Linked DNA regions of Homo sapiens: region 2 is linked to region 1. Evidence: fine-mapped expression QTL. A gene starts in region 1. The other region holds a variant in brackets. All regions are shown on one strand. Distances are from middle to middle.

The links. PIP is the estimated chance that this variant, and not a neighbour inherited with it, causes the effect.
Region 2: its variant is fine-mapped to the expression of OSTM1 in B cells (Fairfax 2012, PIP 0.92).

Annotation. Positions count from the first base shown.
Region 1 is chr6:108,067,454-108,079,844 of GRCh38, reverse strand. It overlaps OSTM1 (osteoclastogenesis associated transmembrane protein 1), which reads left to right and starts at 5,104. Exons shown (of 6, transcript NM_014028.4): 1 at 5,104-5,595. The coding sequence starts at 5,194. RefSeq lists an enhancer at 1-18 and a silencer at 4,894-5,333.
Region 2 is chr6:108,945,957-108,958,347 of GRCh38, reverse strand. ARMC2 (armadillo repeat containing 2) reads right to left here. Exons shown (of 18, transcript NM_032131.6): 13 at 4,997-5,315. Among named protein-coding and RNA genes, the nearest start is that of ARMC2-AS1, 28 kb to the right of the region's middle. RefSeq lists an enhancer at 6,623-7,124. The variant C/T (reference allele first, on the strand shown) is at 5,893.

The DNA.
Region 1 (12,391 bases):
GGAACACCCCATGGGACAAAAGAATTTGAACAGCAGCCTTGAGCCCTAGACCTTCCCTCTGACACAGCCTACCTAACTGAGAAGGAACCAGAAAAACAATTCTGGTAATATGATAAAACAAGGTTCTTTAACACCCACAAAAAAATCACACTAGCTCACCAGCAATGGATCCAAACCAAGAAGAAATCCCTGATTTACCTGAAAAAGAAATCAGAAGGTCAGTTATTAAGCTAAAATCAAGGAGGCACCAGAGAAAAGCAAAGTCCAATTTAAGGAAATAAAAAATGATACAAGAAATGAGGGGAGAAATCGTCAGTGAAATAGCATAAATACAAAACAATCAAAACTTCAGGAAACAATGGATGCAAAAATTGTAGAAATGCAAAATGTTCTGGAAAGTCTCAGCAATAGAATTGACAAGCAGAAGAAAGAACTTCAGAGCTCAAAGACAAGGTTTTTTAATTAATCCATATGAAAAAGACAAAGAAAGAATAAGAAAATATGCCCCAGTATGCTGATTGTTTTTTACTTTATTTCCAAATTCGAGGTAATTTTTCTTAACAATTTCTCATGAAAACATTTTTTTTGAAAGTCTCACAGAGTCTTGATTAACATTTTGAATTTACATGAGGAATGTGAGGTAGCATCGTAGGTCAATTTCTCATCTTCTTTTCTGGTTTTCCAGACGTTTCCCTTTGATTGCTAGTTTTTGCTGTTACAATATCGTAGACAAGAGATGCAAAGGATCTGAATTTAGGCAATAGCATTACTTTTTTTTTTTTTAAATCAGGTTTACATTCAAGACAAGACCTTTCCTTATTCTTACACTATGGGGCTATTGTATCATGATGAATATAATCTTCTCTCATAATCATTAATCTCATCAGCAATGTACATAACTACCATCTAATTCTCAGACCCTATTCAAATTTTGCTAGTTGTCCCAGTAATGTCCTGTCAGGTGCAGTTCCTCAATCTTTCCTTGACTTTTGTAGCTGTAACACTTTTGAAGATTATAGTCGAGATATTTTATATAATGAACTTTAATTTGATTTGTCTGACACTTCCCTCATGATTAGAATCAGATTATGCATCTTTGGCAGGAATATAACAGAACTGACACTGTATTCTTCTAATTGCAGCCTATCAGATGCACACAACTTGTATATGTTCCATTATGATGATGTTCATGTTGATCATTTGATTAACATAGGACTGGACAAGGTTTTCCACTGTAAATTTACTCCTTTTTCCCCATTTGTAATTAATAAGTATTTGGTGGGGAGAATCTATGAAAATATGTAAATGTATTAGTCCTTATCAATCTATTATTTAAATTGATCACTATGAGCTTGTGGTTTTATGTAATGGGTTATAGTTTGTTAACCATCATTATTTCAATGCTGAGAGTGACTCAGATTTGACCAGCGGGAGTCCATTCAAGCTGTTTCTGTATGCCCTTCACATGTTTCCAACATTATTCTTTGAGCACTTCCTTACTTTCTGGCACAAGATGATCCAGTCTCAATTTGTGCTTTTTCTGAATCAGCCATTTCTCCAAGGATCCTTGGTTCCTTTTAGTGGAGAATGATACTTCAAATCCAAGATCTGGGCATTATGCATGCTCATTATCACTGGGGTACCTTTGCTACTAAGTGTTCTAAGTGGACAAAGCCAGAGGAAGTACACCCACACAAGTACATATATATGTATACATATACCATATATTCATATATGTACATACACATATAAAATGTATACACATAAATTTACATCTGTATTTATTTCTATACTATATATAGTTGGCCCTCTGTATGCATGGGTTCTGCATCTTGGGATTCGACCAACTGCAGGTCTAAAATATTTGAGGGCTGGGTACAGCGGCTCATACTGCTAATCCCAGGACTTTGGGAGGCTGAAGTGGGAGGATCACTGGAGCCCAGGTGTCTGAGACCAGTCTGGGCAACACAGGAAGATCCCATCTCTACAAAAAAAGAGAAAAATAAAACCACAATAAAAAGTAACATGCCACTGAAAGTACATTAAAAATGGTAACTTTTATGTTATGTATATTTTACCATAATTTTTAAAAAAGTAGTATCTCCTAGTAGAAAAAAAGTAACAATAAAAAATAATATAAATTAAAAACCCAACATAGTATAACCACTATTTACATAGCATGTATATTGTATTAGGTACTATAAGTAATCTAGATATGATTTAAAAGTATAAAGAGGATGCTTTAATAGCATGTAAGAAAAAAGAAAAAGAGTATACGGAAGGAAATGTGTTAGGTTATATGCAAATACTATGGTGTTTTATGTAAGGGACTTGAGGATCTGAAGATTTTGGCATCTGTGGGGGGTCCTGAAACCATTCCCCTGCTGGTATCAAGGGATGACTATGTATTTTAAGCTATGAATTTGCACTATTTCTAATTTTAATCCAACATTAGAGTTCATTTCTCTCTTTTCATATTTGTAACTTTCTTCTCTGACAGTCTGAAACTGAACTCCAATTATTCTTAATATATTTACTGATTCCATCAATCCTTCTGAATGTAAGCAACCTCCCAGTCACTGCTGCCCAATCCTCTGCATGGAGACCCTTCTTATCCACTGAGAACCCAATACTCTGCATCAGGCTGATGCTGCCACCCTCCCTCACACCACTGTCCTCTTCAGCTTACCTATGCTCTGACACCTCTCTCTGGGCCTCTGACACCCCATTCCTACCAAGCACCGATGCCTATCTTGCTCTACTTGACCTTTAAGATTGAATTGTTCCGGGAATGGAAAGGAAAGGAAGAGGGAAAGTGTCTGTAATTTCCTTAAGTTTTTTTTTTTTTTTTTGAGCAGGAGCACAGTGGTGTGATCCTGGCTTACTGCAACCTCTGCCTCCCAGGTTCAAGAGATTCTCCTGCCTCAGTCTCCTGAGTAGCTGGGATTATAGGCATGCATCACCATGCCCGGCTAATTTTTGTATTTTTAGTAGAGACGGGGTTTCACCATGTTGGCCAGGCTGGTGTCGAACTCCTGACTTCAGGTGATCCGCCCGCCTCGGCCTCCCAAAGTGCTGGGATTACAGGCATGAGTCACCGTGCCCGGCCCCTTAACATGCTTTTTGAAGCCATCCTTTTACCACTACAAACAATATTGTAATGAATAAGTGTCTATGACAAGGTTGTGAACTTGCTGCATCAAAGAGCTTGTGCATTTGCAAGGTTGTTGGTTCTGCACATTGATTTCCATAGAAGTTAACAATTTACACATCCACCTGCAACACAGGATGGTGCTTGAAAGAATTTAAAAGAAAGATAATTCTAATACATAGAAAGACCTAAGAGTTACATGATGACTTTTGCAAAACTTAAGACAACTTATTTTCTCTTTTGGAAATACGTTTATTGTTACACAAATCAAATTTCCTACTATTCAGTTTCTTAGTAACAAAAATGAAACAAAATTTAGCTATCCCAAGCAAATTTAGGAACATAAAACAATAACCAAACAGACGGGGTAAAAAGTAACTATAAGAACCCCCAGGCTGGGCACAGCAGCCTGTGCCTGTAGTCCAATTGTTTGGCAGGCCGAGGCAGGAGGATCCCTTGAACCTAGGAGTTCGAGGCCATCCTGGGCAGTCTAGCGAGACTATGTCTCAAAACCAAACCAAACAAAATACACAACAACAACAAAAAAGTTTTTGAAGAACCCTCAGAAACATAAATTAGGACCCTAAGCTAAGTAGACTTTAGTGCAACAGCTCTGCAATTTACAAGGCAAAAATTACAACCCTGAAAAGCAGGATGACACAAAGCCCGGAAATAATTTTCTACCAACCTGGTTGGTCAGATACTTGTCAGAAAACTGTTTTCCAGGTTATGAGCTTAAATTCTTTTTACAGACTGGCAACGGTATCAGGACGCTTTTTAGAGTGTCCCCTGCTATTGCCTCGGGCATGTCAGAAACTGGATAGGAGTTTCAAGTTGAGCAGTTTGTCCAGGATTTCCTGGGCTTTAGCACTGAACGCGCTGCGTCCCTGGTACCCCTTCAGTTCCAAGCAAACCTGCTTGTTGGCCACTGTAGGACCAGACTTACGTCAAGTACAGTTGCCACTACACAGATGTGGCTACTTACATTTAAGTTAAATACTTTTTACTTTTGAGATGGAGTCTCACTTTGTCGTGCAGGCTGGGGTACAGTGGCGCGATCTCGGCTCACTGCAGCCTCGACCTCCTGGCTCAAGCCATCCTCCCCGCTCAACCTAGGACTACAGGCTTGCGCCACCACGCCCAGCGGCTAATTTTTGTATTTTTAGTAGATACGGGGTTTCGCCATGTTGGCGAGGCTGGTCTCCAACTCCTGGCTTCAAGCGATCTGCCTGCCTCGGCCTCCCAAAGTGCTGGGATTACAGGCGTGAGCCACCGCGCCGGCCCTAAATTAAATTAAAAATTCAGTTCCTCAGCCGGCTCAACACCACACATGTGGCCAGTGGCTGCCTTAATAACGCAGATGTAGAATATTTCCCTCATCTCACAGAGTTCTGACAACGCTGAGGCAGACAGTTGAGAGTTTTTTTAAAAACAAAAACAAAAAGCTTGGAAACCGCTAGTCTCCACCACCTATAATAACCAACGGGCATTATTACTCTCTCCAAATGGGATGAGGAAAAAACTACGCTAAGGAACACCATGCAGAAAATCTGCCGAGGCACAGGCCAGCGGGGTTTCTCTGCGAACGCAGCCGACGGCCATTTCCACAGCGGAGGCCGTCGTCGGTCCAGCGAGGTAAGAAACTTGTAGGACGCCCGGAACTCCCAGAGGGTTGGGCGTTCAAGGGTCAGGACCCCCGAGATGCAATTGTCCAAAGCGGTGGGTGCTCGTGGTCACCGGCTGGCGAGCCTCGGCTACGGATACCCCAATGCACCACTCCGCCCCGCCCCGCGCCTAACGCCGGCTGGAGAGCGCGCGGCCGCAGGGTAGGCGCCCTCCCGCACGCGCGAAGGCCTGCGGCCCGGAGGCAGCCGGCAGCCAATGGGGCGGGGCGCCGCGCGCAGGGGGCGGGGCCGTGACGCGCCCTCCTCGTGACCCGGCTCTCGGCCTGCGCTCGCGGAAACCGGAAGCGGCGGCTGTCCGCGGTGCCGGCTGGGGGCGGAGAGGCGGCGGTGGGCTCCCTGGGGTGTGTGAGCCCGGTGATGGAGCCGGGCCCGACAGCCGCGCAGCGGAGGTGTTCGTTGCCGCCGTGGCTGCCGCTGGGGCTGCTGCTGTGGTCGGGGCTGGCCCTGGGCGCGCTCCCCTTCGGCAGCAGTCCGCACAGGGTCTTCCACGACCTCCTGTCGGAGCAGCAGTTGCTGGAGGTGGAGGACTTGTCCCTGTCCCTCCTGCAGGGTGGAGGGCTGGGGCCTCTGTCGCTGCCCCCGGACCTGCCGGATCTGGATCCTGAGTGCCGGGAGCTCCTGCTGGACTTCGCCAACAGCAGCGCAGAGCTGACAGGGTGTCTGGTGCGCAGCGCCCGGCCCGTGCGCCTCTGTCAGACCTGCTACCCCCTCTTCCAACAGGTCGTCAGCAAGATGGACAACATCAGCCGAGCCGCGGGGGTGGGTACAGGACCACGTCCGGGACTGTGGCTCAGGAGAGTTGGGAAAGGAGGAGGGTGTAATGATGGTCAGCGCTGGGGGCCTCAGTTTCCCCAACAGTAAGAAAAAGGGGTTGGACTGAGTCTGTAGAGTTGGGTCATCAGAAAAAGGGGGTGGCATTATGGGGCTTGGGATTTGGGTTTTTGCTTCCAAGAATGCTGTTGGACATCTTTGGTTCATATAGGTGTGATTGGTTTTCTTGGGGGTCCTGATTCCCCAACCCTCTTGCTCTTCCTCCACCCACTCCACCACGGCTTCTTCTCATCTTCACCTGGAGTTGCCAGGAAGGATCCTTTTCTGAAACAAGTGGGGTGGAGACACTGGTAGTGGTTAGAAATTTGAGCTTTGTAGCCAGAAATGTTCATGTCCACCAACTTCTAACTATGTAACCTTGGATTAATTATCTTCTCAGAACCTTAGTTTCCTCCTCTATAAAGTGGAAAGAACATCTGCCTAATGCGGCTGTTGGAAGAATTAAAAGAGATATTGCCTGTGACTTCATCTTAGTGATGTGAACAGTCTGGAGCTAGCTAGCGGCCAGGACTCCAGTTCCACTCTGCTTATTAGCGGTATACTATGGGCAAGTTACTTACATTCTCTGTGCCTGTTTACTAATCTGTAAAATGGGGATAAAAGGAGGTTTTAGAAAACAACACATAGTAATACCTCTAAGTAAATGGGAGGTAAATTTTTAAGAAATTGTAAGACTGCTCTTCATTCTTCATACCTTAAGGGTTCTCTAGGTGTGTGGTAGCTGCTGTGAGGCACTTAATTTTAAAAAGAAAAACAGACAATTCCTGCTCCTAAGTACTTTATAAAGTTTAGACTAGGAAAAGATTAGAGTGTCAGGGTTGGTGGGAGTCACGAGGTGTGGGCCGGATATGCTTGGTAAAGGAAAAACATGAGGAATAACATTGGGATTGGAGAATGAGAAAGTTCCTCTTGTATTACGGGGACAGCAAGTAGTCTCATGAAAATGTGGTTGGAATTATTCCATAAATTTAAACTTGTCTAAACTTGTTTATAGTTGCACTAAATATAAATTTGTACCTAGTTGGATCCTGCTTTAAGTCAGCCTGTTATTTAAAATAAATCTGTCATGGCTGTGTGCGGTGGCTCATGCCTGTAATCCCAGCACTTTGGGAGGCTGAGGCAGGGGGATCACCTGAGGTCAGGAGTTGGAGACTAGCGTGGCCAACATGGTGAAACCCCCGTCTCTACTAAAAATACAAAAATTATCCGGGCGTGGTGGCACGTGCCTGTAGTCCCAGCTGCTCTGGAAGCTGAGGCAGAAGAATTGCGGTACACGTCTGTAGTTCCAGCTACTCGGGAAGCTGAGGCAGAAGAATCACTTGAGCCTGGAAGGCCAAGGTTGGGGTGAGCCAAGATTGCACTACTGCACTCCTTCCTGGGCAACAGAGTGAGACTCCATCTCACAATAAATAAATAAATAAAAATAAAATAAAAATCTGTCATTTTACATAACTGGGGAATTTATTTGCATTAAATAAATTCTGTGGTCAATCTCTCTGTAAAGAGCATGTTTTTTTTTTTTTCTTTTTTCTTTTTTTTCTGAGACAAGGTCTTGCTCTGTTGCCCAGGCTGGATGGAGTTCAGTGGTGTCATCTCGGCTCACTGCAATCTCCGCCTCCTGGGTTCAAGTGATTCTCCTGCCTCAGCTTCCTGAGTAGCTGGAACTACAGATGTGCACTGCCACACCTAACTAATTATTGTATTTTTAGTAGAGACAGGTTTCACCATGTTGACCAGGCTGTTCTCGAACTCCTGGCCTCAAGTAATCCACCCACCTCAGCCTCCCAAAGATTTGGGATTACAGGTGTGAGCCACCACACCTGGCCAAGGACATATTTTCGAGGTAAATAAATTCAGGCTTACATGCGGTATTTTCCAGGCACACTTCCATTGGGTATAGCAAGGAATATATATCTTACTATCACTTTAAAATAAAGTACCCAAGACATGTCCCTGTCAACTACAGCAGGATACGATATAGCATCATATTCAGTGTTGAGTGGTTAAGATGAGTTGTTTTAGGGTTCCATTTACTCTAAAGAACAAGGGCTATTGTGGGCAGAATGGCCAGGGATCATGATGCAAAGTTTGGGTCTTTGAAGGCAGCAAATGCTTTTCTCATGTGTGTAGGTACTGTGGAATTAAAGAGAGGCTAAAAATAGCACCTCAAACTCTAGGGTGCAGTATTATGGGCATCACCCAATCTGCATGTGAATTTCCATATGAATTCCCCACTACCCAAAGGAGGCTTCCCAGTGGGGGAGTTGTAGAAACCCCCTTCCTTTCCCTCAGATTCTACCAGCAACCTGGGTACCCAGCTCAACTCACCCTGATGTGAAAGGAAGTGGATAAACAGGTGAAAAGAGGCAGGGAAACTTTTTTTGTATTTTCTCTCCAACTCATCCTAGGCCTTGGTCTCGGCTCGCCTTATTTCCCCAGTAGAGCTGGATATGATTCATTAGCTCAAAAGTGTGACATCTACAGTTCTGAGGTACTTTATAGATTTAAAAGGCTATATGGACTGGTTTGGGAGTTGAACCATCATGTATAATAATGAACTTATGAGGCCAGGTGTGGTGGCTCGTGTCTGTAATCCCAGCACTTTGGGAGGCCAAGGCAGGCAGATCACCTGAGGCCAGGAGTTCGAGACCAGCCTGGCCAACATGGTGAAACCCTGCCTCTACTAAAAATACAAAAAAAAAAAAAAAAAAAAAAAATTAGCCGGGTGTGGTGGTGCGCAGCTACTCAGGAGGCTGAGGCAGGAGAATTGCTTGAACCCGGGAGGTGGAGGTTGCAGTGAGCCAAGATAGTGCCACCACTCTCCAACCTGGGGGACAGAGTAAGACTCCGTTGCAAAAAAAAACCAAAACAAAACAAAACAAAAACCTATGGAAAAATGTGTCATGAGTGAACTTGAAGGAATTAGTTGTCTCTTGGGGAGGTTTATTTATCCAGTGTAGTATATTTTCTTTTCTTTTTCTTTTTTTTTTGAGACAGAGTCTTGCTCTGTTGCCCAGGCTGGAGTGCAGTGGCATAATCTCAGCTCACTGCAAGCTCCACCTCCCAGGTTCATGCCATTCTCCTGCCTTAGCCTCCCAAGCAGCTGGGACTACAGGCGCCCGCCACCACGCCCGGCTGATTTTTTATATTTTTAGTAAAGACGGGGTTTCACCGTGTTAGCCAGGATGGTCTCAATCTCCTGACCTCGTGATCTGCACACCTCGACCTCCCAAAGTGCTGGGATTACAGGTGTGAGCCACCACACCCAGCCCTTTTTTTTTTTTTTTGAGACGGAGTTTCCCTCTTGTTACCCAGGCTGGAGTGCAATGGCGGGATCTCGGCTCACTGCAACCTTCGCCTCCCAGGTTCAAGCGATTCTCCTGCCTCAGCCTCCCAAGTAGCTGGGATTACAGGCGCCCACCACCACGCCTGGCTAATTTTTGTATTTTTAGTAGAGACAGGGTTTCACTATGTTGGCCAGGCTGGTCTCAAACTCCTGACCTCAGGTGGTCCACCCGGCTCGGCCTCCCAGAGTGCTGGGATTACAGGCGTGAGCCACCACGCCCAGCCTATCCAGTGTAATGTATTTTGTTTGACTCAGACTCAGTCTTTTATTGAAATCAGTTTTTAGCAAGCACCTACTATTCTTGAATATTGGGCTGGTAAAAGGATAAGAAGGAAAAGAAGGGTAAGATTCAGGCCTCAAACTATCAGTATAGTTAGGGGAAATAAAATACCTTATATGGGGAAATAGGAAAATATCAGTGAGTGTTATAAATTGTACCATAGCAATTTAGAACAAAAGAGTGAAAGGAATGCCAAGTTAAAGGAGGGAACAGAGCCAGATGCAGTGGCTCATGCCTGTAATCCCAGCACTTTGGGAAGCCGAGGCAGGTGGATCGCTTGAGGCCAGGAGTTTGAGACCAGCCTAGCCAACATGGCAAAACCCCGTCTCTACTAAAAATATAAAAAATTAGCCAGGAGTAGTGGCATGTGCCTGTAATCCCAGCTACTCAGGAGGCTGAGGTGGGAGAATCACTTGAGCCTGGGAGGCTGAGGTTTCAGTGAACCAAGTTTGCACCACTGCACTCCAGCCTGGGTGACAGAGCAAGACTCCATCTCAAAAAAAGAAAAAAAAAATGACGGAACAGAGCAAGGCTGGTTCATCAGGGGAAACCTACAAGCTGAATCTCAAGGCATTCTTTCTACCCTTCTTTAGTGTGAATGGACATGGATTGATTGAGAGAGGAGAGGAGTATAATAAGGAGAAAAAAAGAATCAAAGCCAGAAACTAGTAAGCTATTTATGTGGTACAGCAATATAATTAGTTTAACTATAATAGAATTCCCTGATAAGAATCCTAGGTTCTTGTCACTTCCTTTTAGAATTTCTGGGAGAGGGATCGCATATAGTTTCATTATCTCAAGGTGAAAAATACAGTGATTTCTGAAACCTGAATGATAGAACTGAGGGATTCCCTCTTCCTTAGAGTCATACTTTCTCCTTTTAGTTTAAACTGATAGGGACATAGTTTCATTGTGATTCAGCATTATCGGAATGGTCCTGAGGATGCTTTTGCCCCCTCAGATTCTGAATTGGTAGGCTCTGTCCTATTCTACTTGGTTTGTTTAAAATTTAGATAGTGTTTAAAATTTAGATCTATAGATCCATCCATCTACCTATCTATCTCTATCTATCTATGTATCTGTGTATCTTTGTGAAGTGCTAGTCATTTGGGTTATGTATTTGGTGAGTATTCAATATACTTTTACTGTAGATTATTAAATAATGAATTCTGAGGACTATAGGGAGAAAGCCAGAACATAGTGTAATAATCTGTGTCTTTCATTAGAGATCAGAAAATGTAATATTTCTTCTGCATTCATTCAAAAAAATTATTGAGTACCTATTATGTACAGGTTGTGGTAGCTACTAGGGATATAGCATGAATGAGCAGAGCTTGTAGTCTGAAGACAGACATTAAGCATCTCATTATACAAATAATTATTTAATTCATGTGTGATAAGTGTTGCTGATTAAAAAACCCAGATGCTACCAATGCATATGACAAGAGTGCTGATCTTGAGTATGACTGGGGGGTAGGTAGAATGGTCAGTGATTAAAGCAGACACCTACAATTTGAGAGAACACAGGCAGGGGAGGGAAGGTATACATGTAAAGAAATAGCAGGCATGAAGACTGAGATGGGAAGGAGTTTGTGGTGTATCTGAGGTCTAGAACACAGCACAGTGAGCAAGAAGGAAACCCGTGGTCTGAGCCTAAGGAAGTACACAGGTGCCAGGTCATGTGGGCCTTGTAGGGTATGTTAAGGATTTTAGACTTTGATTTTAAAGCAGTATGACGTTAGTGAAAGGTTTAATTCTGTGGAATGACATAATCAGATTTGTACTTTAAAAGGCTATGCTGGCTATGTGACAGAAAATGGAGAGGGTAGGGGCTGGGGAGGGTAGGGGAAGAAGATATGTGGGGAGATGAATTAGGAGACTGTTGCAGTGGTGTGAGAGACAGTGGTGTCTAGGCTATGTGGGGGCCATCATGATGTGGAGAAATGGGTGGATTTCAGAGATACTTAGGAGGCAGAAATTACAGGCTTGGAGGTTAATTGAATGTGGGGAGTAAGGAAAAGGTAGTGATGATTTCCAGGGTTTTAATAAGAGCAGCTTAATGAATAGGGTTGTCATTTACTGAGCTGGAGGGAGGAGTCTGTTTAGTGGGCGAAGATCATTAACTCAGTTTTGAACGTGTTGATTTTGAGGTGTTTATGAGCTTTCTAAGTGGATATATTGATTGCCTATGTGGTTGAATATACACATCTAGAGGACTGGACTAGAGATAACACCTTTGGGAGTGTCGGCATAAAAATGGCATTTGAAATTATGACATGGGTGAACATACCTGAAGAATGAGTAGGAACACTAAGAGTTTAAGATTAAATAGAGGGTAAACTCTCAAAGGTGACTGAGAAGGAAGAATTGGAGAGATAAAGAAGAATGAGGAGAGCATGATGCCCTGTAAATCAAGGAAAAGGGAAGGGGTGGTTATTTGTGTCAAATCCTGCTGAGAGAATTGGAGATATATCTGTCAACACTGGCAGTATTGGTGACACTAACAAGAGTGAATTTGATGGAGTCCTTGGGTACGAAAGTGAGATCAGAGTGGGTTGAACAGGGATTGGAAGATGAGGACATGGGAAGAGTGAACCTAGACAACTGCTGAAGAGTTTGGCCTTGATGGGGAGATAAGAAAGAGAAGTCACTAAAGAGCAATGTGGGACTCAGAGACTTTCTTTCATTTCTCTTTCTCTATTTTTTTTTTTTTTTTTTTTTTTAGACAGAGGCTCGCTCTGTCAACCAAGCTGGAGTGCATGGCACAATCTCGGCTCACTGCAACCTCCACCATCCCAGGTTCAAGCGATTCTCCAGCCTCAGCCTCCTGAGTAGCTGGGACTATGGGTGTGCACCACCACACCCAGCTAATTTTATACTTTTAGTAGAGATGGGGTTTCACCAGGTTGGCTGGACTGGTCTCGAACTCCTGACCTTAGGTGATCTGCCTGCCTCGGCCTCCCAAAGTATTGGGATACAGGCGTGAGCCACGGTGCCAGGCTGACTTTCTATCATTTCTTTCCATTCCCCTGTCCCTCCATTCCTCTGTCCTGCCTTCCCTTCTTCCTTGTCCAAGATGGGAGAGAGCTGGACATGTT
Region 2 (12,391 bases), 880 kb before region 1:
CAATAATTCATTCTCGAAAGGTGCATCTGTCTCAGTCACCTTGGCCTGTCATAATAAAATACCATAAACTGGGTGGCTTGAACCAACAGGAATTTATTTTCTCACAGTTACGGAGGCTGGAAGTCCAAGATCAGGGAGGCTGCATGGTCAGGCTCTGGTGTCTCTTCTTGTAAGGGCCCTAACTCCAGCATGAGGTCCCCACATCATGGCCTTATCTAAACCTAATTATCTCCCAAAGGCCCCATCTCCAAATACCATCACATGGGGGTTAGGACTTCATAGATGAATTTAGGGGTCAGATGAGAACACTGAGGTTTAGAGAAGTTCAATACCTCACCTCACTTCACAGAGCACACATCTAAATCCAGGTGTACTTGACCCCTACTATCCTACTCTTTCCACAGAACGCTGCGGAAGCCAAGGACTCAGGGTTGCTGAGTTCCCATTGGAGCTAGTTGGGGCAATAGACTGCTTCCAAAAAACCATGACAACCATCCTACCCTCTATAATTCACTCACGGATATGAGACAATCTGGAATTTGGACTTGCCACTAAGTCAGCAAATCTCTGAGTCTGGTGGCATACTGAGAGGGTCAGTTCTTACTAGAAACATTATTGATTTTTAAAAGACCCTCTGCAATGAGGCTGACCTCTCTAGGCAAGTCCTGGGGTACAAGTAACTCCTTGTGAAGGGTGCAGGGCTAGAGGGAGGTAGGAAGAAAAGAGCCTAAGGGATGCCCTTCCCACATGACTAGGGAAGGGGGCCATGCCACAGGAGCCATCAGGCTGGGAGGAGTGCTCAGCTCTGAGGGTAAACAGGACAGCAGCAACTCTGAGTTCAGTGGGCACAACCAAACCACGGGCAGGCCCTTTCTATAGTCACAGTCACAGCCCAGCACTGGCCCTGCGTTGCTCTAAGCTGCCAGGCCTGTCAGAGGGGGCAGGAGGCCTTTCCTGGAATGTGGTCACCACTCCACACCGACACAGACAAAACAGGTAGGAAATCCACAGAGACCAGTGTAGAAAGGGCTTAGCAGGGCTTAGAAACTCACCCAGGAGTCGAGCTGTGTAAGGGGAAGGTGGAGGGGGGTGACCCCCTGTCAGGGGTGACTTTTGCCCTTCTATCAACTTTTATTTGGAGATAAAGTCTTTCAGGAGAGAATAGAGAAGGGATCACCTGCTTGCCCAAACAACTGCCTAAGGCATAGTAGGCAAGAGGCCTGACCCATCACAGGAGAGCAGGGTTTCTTCACTTCTGCTCAACCTCATATGGTACCAGGCTCTAATACAGAGACTAAAACATTTCTCACAGGGAGGCCCTTGACCACCTGTATCAGGAGCAGCCAGGGAGCTTTAGAGAGAGAGTCTCACTCTGTCGCCCATGCTGGAGTGCAACAGTACGATCTTGGCTCACTGCAACCTCCACCTCCTGGGTTCAAGAGATCCTCCTGCCTCAGCCTCCTGAGTAGCTAGGACTACAGGCACGTGCCACCATGCCTGGCTAATGTTTGTATTTTTAGTAGAGATGGGGTTTTGCCATGTTGGCCAGGCTGGTCTTGAACTCCTGACCTCAAGTGATCTGCCCACCTCAGCCTCCCAAAGTGCTGGGATGACAGGTGTGAGCCACTGCGCCCGGACTTTTTCTTGGAGACAGGGTCTCACTCTGTTGCCCAGGCCAGAGTGCAGTGGTGTAAGCATGGCTCACTGCAGCCTTGACTTCCTGGGCTCAGGTAATTCTCCCACCTCAGCCTCCTGAGTAGCTGAGATCACAGGCGTGTCCCACCACACTCAGCTAATTTTTTTTTTTTTTTTTAATAGAGACAGGGTTTTGCCATGTTGCCCAGTCTGGTCCGGAATCCCTGGCCTCAAGCAATCTGCCTGCCTTGGCTTCCCAAAGTGCTGGGATTATAGGCGCGAACCACCGTGCCCAGCCTCTTGCCTCTTTCTCCTACCCCAAAGCATCACTTTCTTTTGAGTCAAAAGCAAGTTATTCACTCTTCCTTTATAGGTAGAAATGTAATTTCTAAGCTCATAAAATATTTATAAGATGAGGAGTTTTTTCACTTTATATGTGAATATTAACAACTGTGGGAAAATGAATCATGCATAACTCTACTCCTTGGCTGTTCACAGCCATGTGCCCCCAGTCCAGGTGTTTGAGGTCTGGTCCTCAGGCCCTTCCTGGGCAGCCACAGTCAGGTAAAGGGATTAATTCTGCAACAGATGAGAATTCGCCCAGTCGGTTTCAGGCTTCTGCTAGATCCTGAGGAGCCAGAAAAGCTAACATGGTTCCCTGAAGCACTGGGTCTCAACACTTAATGGGCAAAAGGCTCACCTGGGGGCAAAGGAGGCATTAAAAGGCAGATTTCAAGACTCTAATGGCATTTTACAGAGGCAGTTTCTGGGCAGGGGCCAGAAACCAAAAAGGGTATTTTAAAGAGTCCCACAGCTGATTCTGCAGCAGTCCCATCCCTGGTCCTGGGCTGAGAAGCCCTGCTCAGTGTGGTGAGTGGATCTCAGGAAGGGGAAAGAGCTTCAGCAGACATGGGCATGCTACAGAGCAAATGCTGAACGTTTTGAGGTTGGAACAGAAACTGAATTTCTCTCACAGCTACGTGCATTTTCTTCCACGTGGCTTAATGTGCAGTCAGCAGCTTGGAAAAGAGTTCAAGCCTAAACACAGAGATTTTTGAGTTATTTACATGGAAGTGGTAAGTCATGGTGCAGATCCCAATCAGAAGTGAAGAGTCGTTTCTCAAGACAGGTGACACGTGATGTGGAGTGCGGGGAAGCACAGGTCAGGGGCCCGGTGACTTTGCCACTTGCTAACTTTGTGACCTGTGAAAGTCACTATATCTCACTGAGCCCGTTTCCTCATCTGTGAAATGATGAAAATAACAAAAACGTGCCCTGACATTGTTGTGAGGTAACAGATATGAAAATGCGTTTTCAACCGTAAAGCTCCATAATGAAGCACGGCCTTGTCACTCACATGCCCGCAGCCGGGCTCTGCCACCCGTCCCTTAGCTGTGTATGCCTAGCTTCTGCCCTTCTCAGAAACTGGGGTTCTTGTCTGTGCACTCAATGTCCCTCCACCATATAGGCCGAATTCCTTGAAAGCACATACCAGCCTCCATTTTTAAAACCTTGTTCTAAACTGAATGTTGGTATCCCCCAGAATGCACATGTAAAAGCCCTATCCCTTCAATGTGACTGTATTTGGAGCTAGGTCCTGTGGGGAAGTGATAAAGGTTAAATGAGGTCAGAAGGGTGGGGCCCTCATCCGGTGGAGCTGGTACCCTTACAAGAAGTAGAAGGGACCCCAGAGTGTGCTCTCTTCAGCACATGAGGACCCAGTGAGAGGGCAATCAACCACATGCCAGGAAGGGGAGCCTGCACCAGACCCTGACCCTGCCGGCATCTCGGTCTCAGACTTCCAGTTTCCAGAACTGTGAGAAAATACATGTCTGTTGTTGAAGCTCCCCAGTTTACGGGATTTTGTTATGGCAGCCTGAGCAGAATAAATGAAACTGAATGTATAGCACAGAACTGGTTACCCAGAAAGAGCTTAGGAAATGGCTCTTGAGTTGACTAGTGGGGGCGAGGGAGGCCAGGGAGTTCACAGATTGCTCCTCCAAAACATCATTTGTGTCAGACATTAGCTTCCTTCCAAAACAACAACATTTTCCACAAGTATGGTTAGTAGTAGCTAATTTTTTTTCTGGAGACAGAGTCTCACTGTGTCACCTAGGCTGGAATGCAGTGGCACGATCTCGGCCCACTGCGGCCCTCCGTCTCCTGAGTTCAAGCGATTCTCCTGCCTCAGCCTCCCGAGTAGCTGGGATTATAGGTGAATGCTACCATGCCTGGCTAATTTTCGTATTTTAGTAGAGAAAGGGGTTTCACCATGTTGGCCAGGCTGGTCTTAAACTCCTGACCTTGTGATCCACCCACCTCAGCCTCTCAAAGTGCTGGGATTACAGGCCTGAGCCACCAGGCCCACCTAATAGTGGCAAGATTAATCAATCTTGGGTTGCAGTTAATTTTCCTACACACTAGCAGGCAGAAGTGCTTGTGGGAGATGACAGACCTAAAAAGTATAGGGGTTGCCATGGACTGAATTGTGTGCCCAACAAAATTCATATGTTGAAGCTCTACTCCCAATATGCTTGTATTTGGAGATAAGACTTTGAAGAGATACAGCAGGTTACAGAGCCCATAAGGGTAGGGTCCTAATATGATAGGATTGGTGACTTTATAAAAAGAGGAGGGGGAGAGACAGACTGTCCCCTACCCCACAAGTGCTTGCACCAAGGAATAGCCATGTGAGCACACAGTGAGTAGGTGGCTGTCTGCAGGCCAGGAGGAAGAGCCCTCACCAGGAGCTGAACAGTCTGGCACCTTGATCTTGAATTTCTCAGCCTCCAGAAGCATAAGAAATAAATTTCTGACAAAGTTGCCCAATCTGTGGTATTTTGTTATGGCAATCTGAGCTAATACAAGGGGAATGAACAGGACTTGAATGACTGGAGACTGTAATTACAAATAATGTAAGAACCTGAAGAGGAAAAAAAAGGAATTAATTTTAATCATGTGGATTGCCCACAATATTTGGGATTTGGGATTTTAAACTCAAATATTTGGAATTTTAAACTCTTTGTGGTTAGTTTAGCCAAGTTTTCTTCATTTGCTGAGTATAATTTTAAAAAATTGCAATGTAATTCACAAACCATAAAATTCACCCTTTTAAAGTGTACGATTTGGTGGGTTTTAGTAATAATCTCTATTACTATGTTTTCTTTTCCTTTTCTAATAATCTGGATTACTTTTAAGACAGTTCTGAACAGAAGAGGGAATTTCCTTCATACAGCTAAGACTTTCTCATAGGGAGCCACTTGTGATAATAAAATCCTCATCACACCACAGACACAGAACTGTCTTTGGGCCGCGGGAAAGTTGGTTGTGTCTGCTGCAGCCAGTGGGCTGCGGTTCTCACCCAGCGTGGTCAGGAGCAGGCCCACTATCCCCGGGTTGGCGGCCAGCACCGGGCCCACGCCCGGGTGGATGGCAATGTTGGCCAGCACACGAGTCAGCTTGATGAGCACGTCCTCTGCCTCTGACGGCGGCCTCTGCGCCCTGTGCTGCTCGCCTCGTTGGCCCACCGGCTTCTGGGAATGCAGATCCAGCTGATGGAACGTCTGGAATAATGACAGCAGAGTTTGGATGCTCCCTTTCTCTTTGGAAAATTGTTCACGAGCCTGGTTATTTTTTGCCGTCAGGTTGCCAAGAATAAAAACAACACGGACGACTAAATCCTGCAATAAACGAAAGACAGAGTCAAAAGTGCAAAGGGGGCTGGAACACATCGTGGGGAAGAAGATAGTATTTAATTTATTCACAATTGCATTAATAGTAAAATGGAACACGTCTGGCTTCGGCTCACTTGTACAGTATTTGATTCTCAAGATCAGTGCAAAGTGACAAAGGAGATTAAAAGCACTTGGCAGCAATGAAAGAATACAAACTGATTGATGTGATCAGCAACGTCTATTACCTTCAGATCCTTCATCTTAAATTCTGGCTCGCCTTTCTTTATCTCCTTCAGAGAACAATTAGTTGAGTGGGACAGCATTACTAAAAATGAGTCATGTAAATCTAAGTTTTGACAATAGCCGGTTTCTTGAAATTCCAAATCTTTCCTTAAAATTTCGTCTCCTGCTGAAGTATGGTGTTTTTGAATTTGGGCAGGATTGACACTTGGGACTGGATAATTCTTTGTTGTGGGGAGGTGTCCTGTGCATTGTAGAGCGTTTGGCAGCACACCTGGCCTCCACGCACTAGATGACAACACCTCTCCAGATGTGACAGCCAAAATTGCCCCCTGTGGAGAAG[C/T]GCTGTGTTACGTAGCTACACTACTTTAAGGCAGTACCTACCAATTCTTACCCAGGGTGGTGGTTACATGAGTGACACCTTTATAATTACTTGCTAAATTGTGCATACCCGTTTTATGCACTTTTCTGTATATAGGCTATATTTCACAATTTTAAAATGTTTTTACAAACCCTAAGCTGGGAACATTTTAAAACTAAACAAGATACAAAAATCACTGTGTTTTTAGTTTGACAACAATGTCCACATATGAGTCCAGATCAGCCTTCCCCATGGGTGTCAATGGAGGTGACCTGGGAGGAGGAGATTTTAAAGGAATACTCATTGGAGGGCTACAACTGGCCTGGATGGTATTATATCTATATCTATATATACAGTGCCAGGCACTATGCCATTTTATAGACAAGAAACTAGGGCCTGGAGAAGCTGCCCAGGTCACATGGCTGGTGAAGGGTAAGGTCAGGATTTGATTCCAGGGTGACCCAGACTCTAGTGTCCTTTCTACACCAACATCTGCTTCCCACACAGGGTGTCGTGTACTTTTTCTCCTCCTTTGCCTTCTTGCAGAACAGTTAAAGAATTATCTCCTTTTAAAAGCAAATATGTCACCAGAAGGGACGACCATAAACGTGACTTTGTTGATCAGATCAGTAGTTAGCAGTAGCCTTAAGAAAAGGGGACAAAGGGCCAAGGGCTGGGCACGTTTTCATCGAGGAGCGCATGTCCAGGTGCGACGCCAGGGGCCCCGTGAGGGGCGTCGGGTGTGGCCAGGAAACTGGGGAGGATTGGGGGCAGAGTACAACTTTTGGATTTACCTAGGCCTTCTCTGCCAATACCAACTTGTTCCTGCTTGTTCTTGCTAAAAAATCCAAAAGTTTTCCCTGACACTCACTGGCAGAGAAGAAGCGAGGCTGCTGCTTGCACAACCGGAAACCATTTGCCAAACATTAAGGAAGGACAGCAGCTAATGCTACAGCAAAAACTGGAGATGGTCCAGGAGAGAGTTCATTTTCGGAGACATTTCAACTCACAGCATTCAACCAGCCATAGTGGTCGTCCAATTAGGAGACCCTGCTCCTGACTCCACCCCGGGAAATAGAATGTTAGTCCTCAGGTAAGTTCTTAATGCCAGGGCCTAGGAATACACACACATAACCAAGTCTGAAAGTCAGTGCTATGAAGAGCTTCTCACCTACTGAGAAGACAAGGCTAACATATGTGGGGAAACGGCAAAGACTAAAACGGCAAAGGAAGAAGCGAGACGTGAAAGGGGATTATGAGTCCCAGGTCACAGCCAGGCAGGCTGGACTCACACAGATGCTTGGCCTCTCTGTACATCCATTAACTTGTTTGCAAAATGGAGACAAAATTCTTACTGTGAGATCACATGAGATACAACAGGCAAAGCACAAATTGTACTGAGCAATGATTCGGGCATTTCTGTGAACTCTTTTCATGTCCTATCAATAAAATGCTAACTAATAGCAATAAACTCAGTGGCACAGGCCTAGTAGTCTCACCAGAGTTTTGAAAAGAGGATGCTCTGGGAACAGTGTCAGGTTCAGCAGAGTTATCATGAAAGAATCTGAGTTCAACCTTGGAAGCTGTGAGATGCAGAGATATGTGGAAGGGAGCATGGGGTTGGGCAGGCAGCAGAAGACAAGTCTCTCTCTTTTTTTAACTTTTTAGGCTCAGGGGTACATGAGCACTTTTGTTACATGGGTAATCTTGTGTCATGGGGCTTTGGTATGCAGATTATTTCGTCACCCAGGTACTAAGCTTACTATCCAATAGTTATTTTTCCTGATCCTCTTCCTTCTCCCACCCTCCACCCTCAAGTAGGTCCCAGTGTCTGTTGTCCCCTTCTTTGTGTCCATGAGTTCTCATCGTTTAGCTCCCACTTATAAGTGAGAACTTGTGGTATTTGGTTTTCTGTTCTTGCGTTAGTTTGCTAAGGATAATGGCCTCCTGCTCTATCCATGTTTCTGCAAAGGACATGATCTCACTCTTTTTTATGGCCGCATGGTATTCCATGATGTATATGTACTACATGGTCTTTATCCAATCCACCATTGATAGACATTTACGTTGATTCCATGCCTTTGCTATTGTGAATAGTGCTACAATCAACAAATGTATGCATGTGTCTTTATGATAGAATGATTTATTTATATTCCTTTGGGTATATACCCAATAATGGGATTTCTGGGTCAAATGGTTCTAAGTTTGTTTGTTTTTTTTGTTTTTGTTTTTGAGACAGAGTATTGCTCTGTCGCCCAGGCTAGAGTGTAGTGGTGCAATCTCAGCTCACAGCAACCTCCGCATCCTGTGTTCAAGTGATTCTTCTGTCTCAGCCTCCCAAGTAGCTGGGATTACAGGCATGCACCATCAAACTTGGCTAATTTTTGTACTTTTAGTAGAGACGCGGTTTCACCATGTTGGCTAGGCTGGCCTCAAACTCCTGACCTCAAGTGATCCACCCACCTCGGCCTCTCAAAGTGCTGGAATTACAGGCGTGAGCCACTGTGCCCGGCCTGTTTTTAGTTTGAAGAGGATTAGTTTGAGAGAGCATCTGGGACTATCTCCTTCCTGGGCCAGGGGTCATCTTCTCATTCTTTAATTACCTGACTGTTCCCTAAAGAAGCTATGGGATATTTATGGGCCTTAAGTCTAAAACAAGCACACACAATTTGATTATAATACTTGAATCCCATTTCACATAAAACAGAGGGTTACTTCAAGTAATGCCTGGTGGCAAAGGCCCTGCCCTGGGCTCTGAGTTGGTAGCTTCTCCTCCACCCTGATCAGACCCAACAGAGTAGCAGAAAATCAGTTTTCCAACCAGGACAGAGGGTATTTCCAAGAATTAAGCATCTTAAAGAAGAACTTCATCTGATATTTTCTAAGCTGAGGACTATAAACAGAATTTTTGTGTGAACTTTGATACATGTTTCCTGCTGAAAGACTATATGAATTCTAGTTCTGAAAATCCTAATAATTAATAACAATAACAGCACAGTAACAGCAGCAACTAACACACAGTACTTATTAGTACTCATGATGTGCCAGGCATTGTCCTAAGCATTTATATATACAAATTAACTAATTCACTAAAAATGATAACTTCCATTTCTTTAACCTGAATAAAGCTATTCACAGTATCTTTTACAATCTAAACCGCCATCTCCCTCGCACATTTGATAACAGTGATGTTAATAAGTTTTGGACTTCACCATGTTCCTGGAATTGGGCTCTCTTCTCCCATTTCCATAAAAGCATGTTAAACAAGACAGGAAAGGCATTATGAGTGATTTTAAGTGATTGCTTATTTAATTAATATTTGCATTTTGTACCCTAAATTGTTACCAGGACTAAACAATTTACCTCCTAAAATGTCATGGCATCTTCTAAGGGTGCTGGATTGTTTTTTTTCTTCCTAGGCCTTGCCGTTTCACCTCCATCTACCTGGTCTTGCTTTTCTCTGAGTCCAGCTCAGTAGGCTTCTCCAGCCCTGTCCCACCTCCAGCTATCCGTGTTGATTTGCCAGGATTTAGATCAGATCCTGGTAAAAAATAGATTTCCTTAGTGGTCATCATTCTTCAAAATTCAAATGACCTCTCCCCACTGTCACATGCAGTCTAATCTGGGAAGACTAAGTGCTGCTTTTCTTTTTCTAAAAATTCCCTCAGGCCCCTTCCTCTTCTAAAATTCTTCGATTCTGTCATCTCTGTAGGTCCTAACGTGGCCGAGATTAGTAAGCCTCCAGTGCAGAAGAAGAAGCTCTAGGCTGTAGGGCAGGAAGAGTTAACACTGTTATAATACTGCTTTTCCTGCTTCAGATGGAAAAGGAGGGGGTGGTTCCTGGCAGCCGCGGTGCCAACTGAAGCATGGCATGCGAGATCAACAAATGGGATGGCAGATTGCGCCGTCTGCAGCACCAAACTTCCAGCAACTGCTATCTCTGCTTACTGTTTTTGTCCTGTTTTTCAGGGTTAGCTAAGGCACTTTTTCTTTTCTTTTTTTCCCCTCCCTTCTTAAATATATTCTACATGGACCTAGGGATCCTGGAAGAGGCCAAAATAGAAGCCATCTCACAGGAGGTCAGCAGAGGTAGTGTTTTCTTATCTCCATGCCAGGGCTTGTCTTGACTCATCTGGAATCCTGAAGAAGGCTGAGCAAGTCAGCTTTCTAGGGCCCCTCTCCTCACCATGGGTGGCCTCTGCTCCCAAACCGTGCACTCCAAGGTCCTCCCTACTGAACCAAGGTCTGCGTTGGGCAGGATCATGGAGAGATTATCTACTGTTCCACAGCCCGAGCCATCTCAAGTCTATAAAATATTACTTAATATTCTATAAAGATTTGTAAAAATTAAACCAAGGCCAAAATCATCTATTTAGAGAGAGCACCAATTCCACAGCGGAAAAGGATTTCATCAATATGCAGCTCTCCTTTGAGGCACACATTCTCTCCTTTATTCTTAGACAATATCTGAGAATCATCTATAAATTAACACTCCATTTTTATAGCATTTTTATTAAATTTAACACAATGTTGCATATTCATATCATAACTATGTGATTTTGAAATAGCAAACTGAAGATGAATCAAGAGAGAGCTTTTTTTTTTTTTCCTAAAGAAGGCAGTCTAGTATAACCAGTTCATATCGACTTTCTAATTTTGCTTAAAACAGAATCAGCCTAGCAACAGCTACGGCCAACCAGAGCTTAGACAAACAGATACACTTAGAGGAAGAAGACTGACCTCAACAGAGCTTTCCAGTTAGAGCCTGAGGGATATTGTCATTAGTTTCGCAGATGTTATGCCCCAATGAGCAAACAAGTTACTCAATCTGAATGGGCCCCACAAGCCTGTGAATGAAATTACTTTAACTGGAATAAAACCAGGAACAGGGCACTGCTCACCAGGATGGTCTATGTCCAGTTCCAATGGTGGCAGCATTGGCAGTAGCTGTTGCATGTTACTTTCCATGGGAGAGACATTGGCCTAAAGCCAATGAAAGACATTTTTACCCCTATTTAGAGATGTTGAAACTGAGGCTTCAGGAGACTCATTAAGTAAGCCCAAAGTCAAACACTGGTGAAGAGAAGAGGCAGGACTTGAACAATCATCTCTGTACACACAGATGGTTTCCAAAACCACCTTCAGCCCAACTCCTCATTGCTAATCATCATCATCTTCCCAGTCCCCCAGCCCCAGCATCTCTGATTCCTCTCTATCTCATCCCCTCACCAAGCAGTCACCAAGTCTCCTCGACTCTGTCATCTCAAAATGTTCCCCAGCTCCCTCCTGCCCATGCCGACCTGGGCTAATCTGCCTGTAGACTGTTGTCAGAGGCCCTTTCCAGGCTCCTCCCTCTGCCATCAACCCTAACACCACTTCTTAAAGCACAGCTCTTCCCTTTGCTCAAAAACATCTACTGCCTATTAAATGAATGTCAAAGCCAGCATCTAATGCATCATCTGGCCCCACGCAACCACTTCTTTGCTACCTCACATTACTCTCTGCCCATGGCCAGCCACAGTGAACACATTCCTCCCCGACTCCCACACCCTTCCTCCCGTACCTTAAAATAACTCATGTGCATAATGTTGACTGTGGGGAAGAAACAATATCAAGCTGTCACAGAAAGAATAAACTATGTTCAGCAGACTCCACTTAGGAGGGAACTGCTTCCACTAAGTAAAGGAACACATTTTAGAAAAATTTGTAAGAATGGGTTGAAATGGAAGGGGATGTAAATATACTTAAAATCCGAACTCTCTATTAACCAGAAAATTAATCAAAATACCCTGTTTAAAATATGGTTACAAACTTCTCGTGCCTGAGAGCTGAATCAGGATTTACAATTTGCTTTGTTTATCCAACTTACCACCCTCAAACAAAACTCAAACATTAATTGAGCTTGCAGGTGGCTTGAAGAACAGATAAATTTTAGCAAACTGGAAGACAGACTGTGCACTACTGCAAAAATGCTAACTGACCATAGGGCACTGAAAGTGGGTCAAGAGTTTGCCTACGTGTTTAACTAGATAAAATCGAAGAATCTGAAATGTTGGAGACTCAAAGCCAAGAATCTAAGTAGAAAATCATTTTAAAACCAGAAGAGATTACGCTTGATTCCTCCATCCATCTATCTGTTCTATCAGCAATCATTTATTGAGCACCCACGATATGCCTCTGAATGTCACTCAAAAGTACCAGGCCAATGCTAGAATTTCACTGTGCTAAGTTCTTTTTCAAGCCAGCAGACATAAATCAGGCATTTGGGTTCCGTGCTGAGCGGGGTAAGAGCCAGTTCCACAAGGGCAAAGCCGGCAGGAGCTGGAAAGAATGAACAAGCTAAGGGCGTATTGTACAGCCTGCCCGGTCAGGGGCGCAGACCAAGGCCAAGGCTGAAAAAAGGAGCAAGCTCAGCCAAATGCTCTCAGCACCCGCTGGGAATGTGCCTGCAGAGGGGCTGGGAAGACAGCCATAGGGCGTG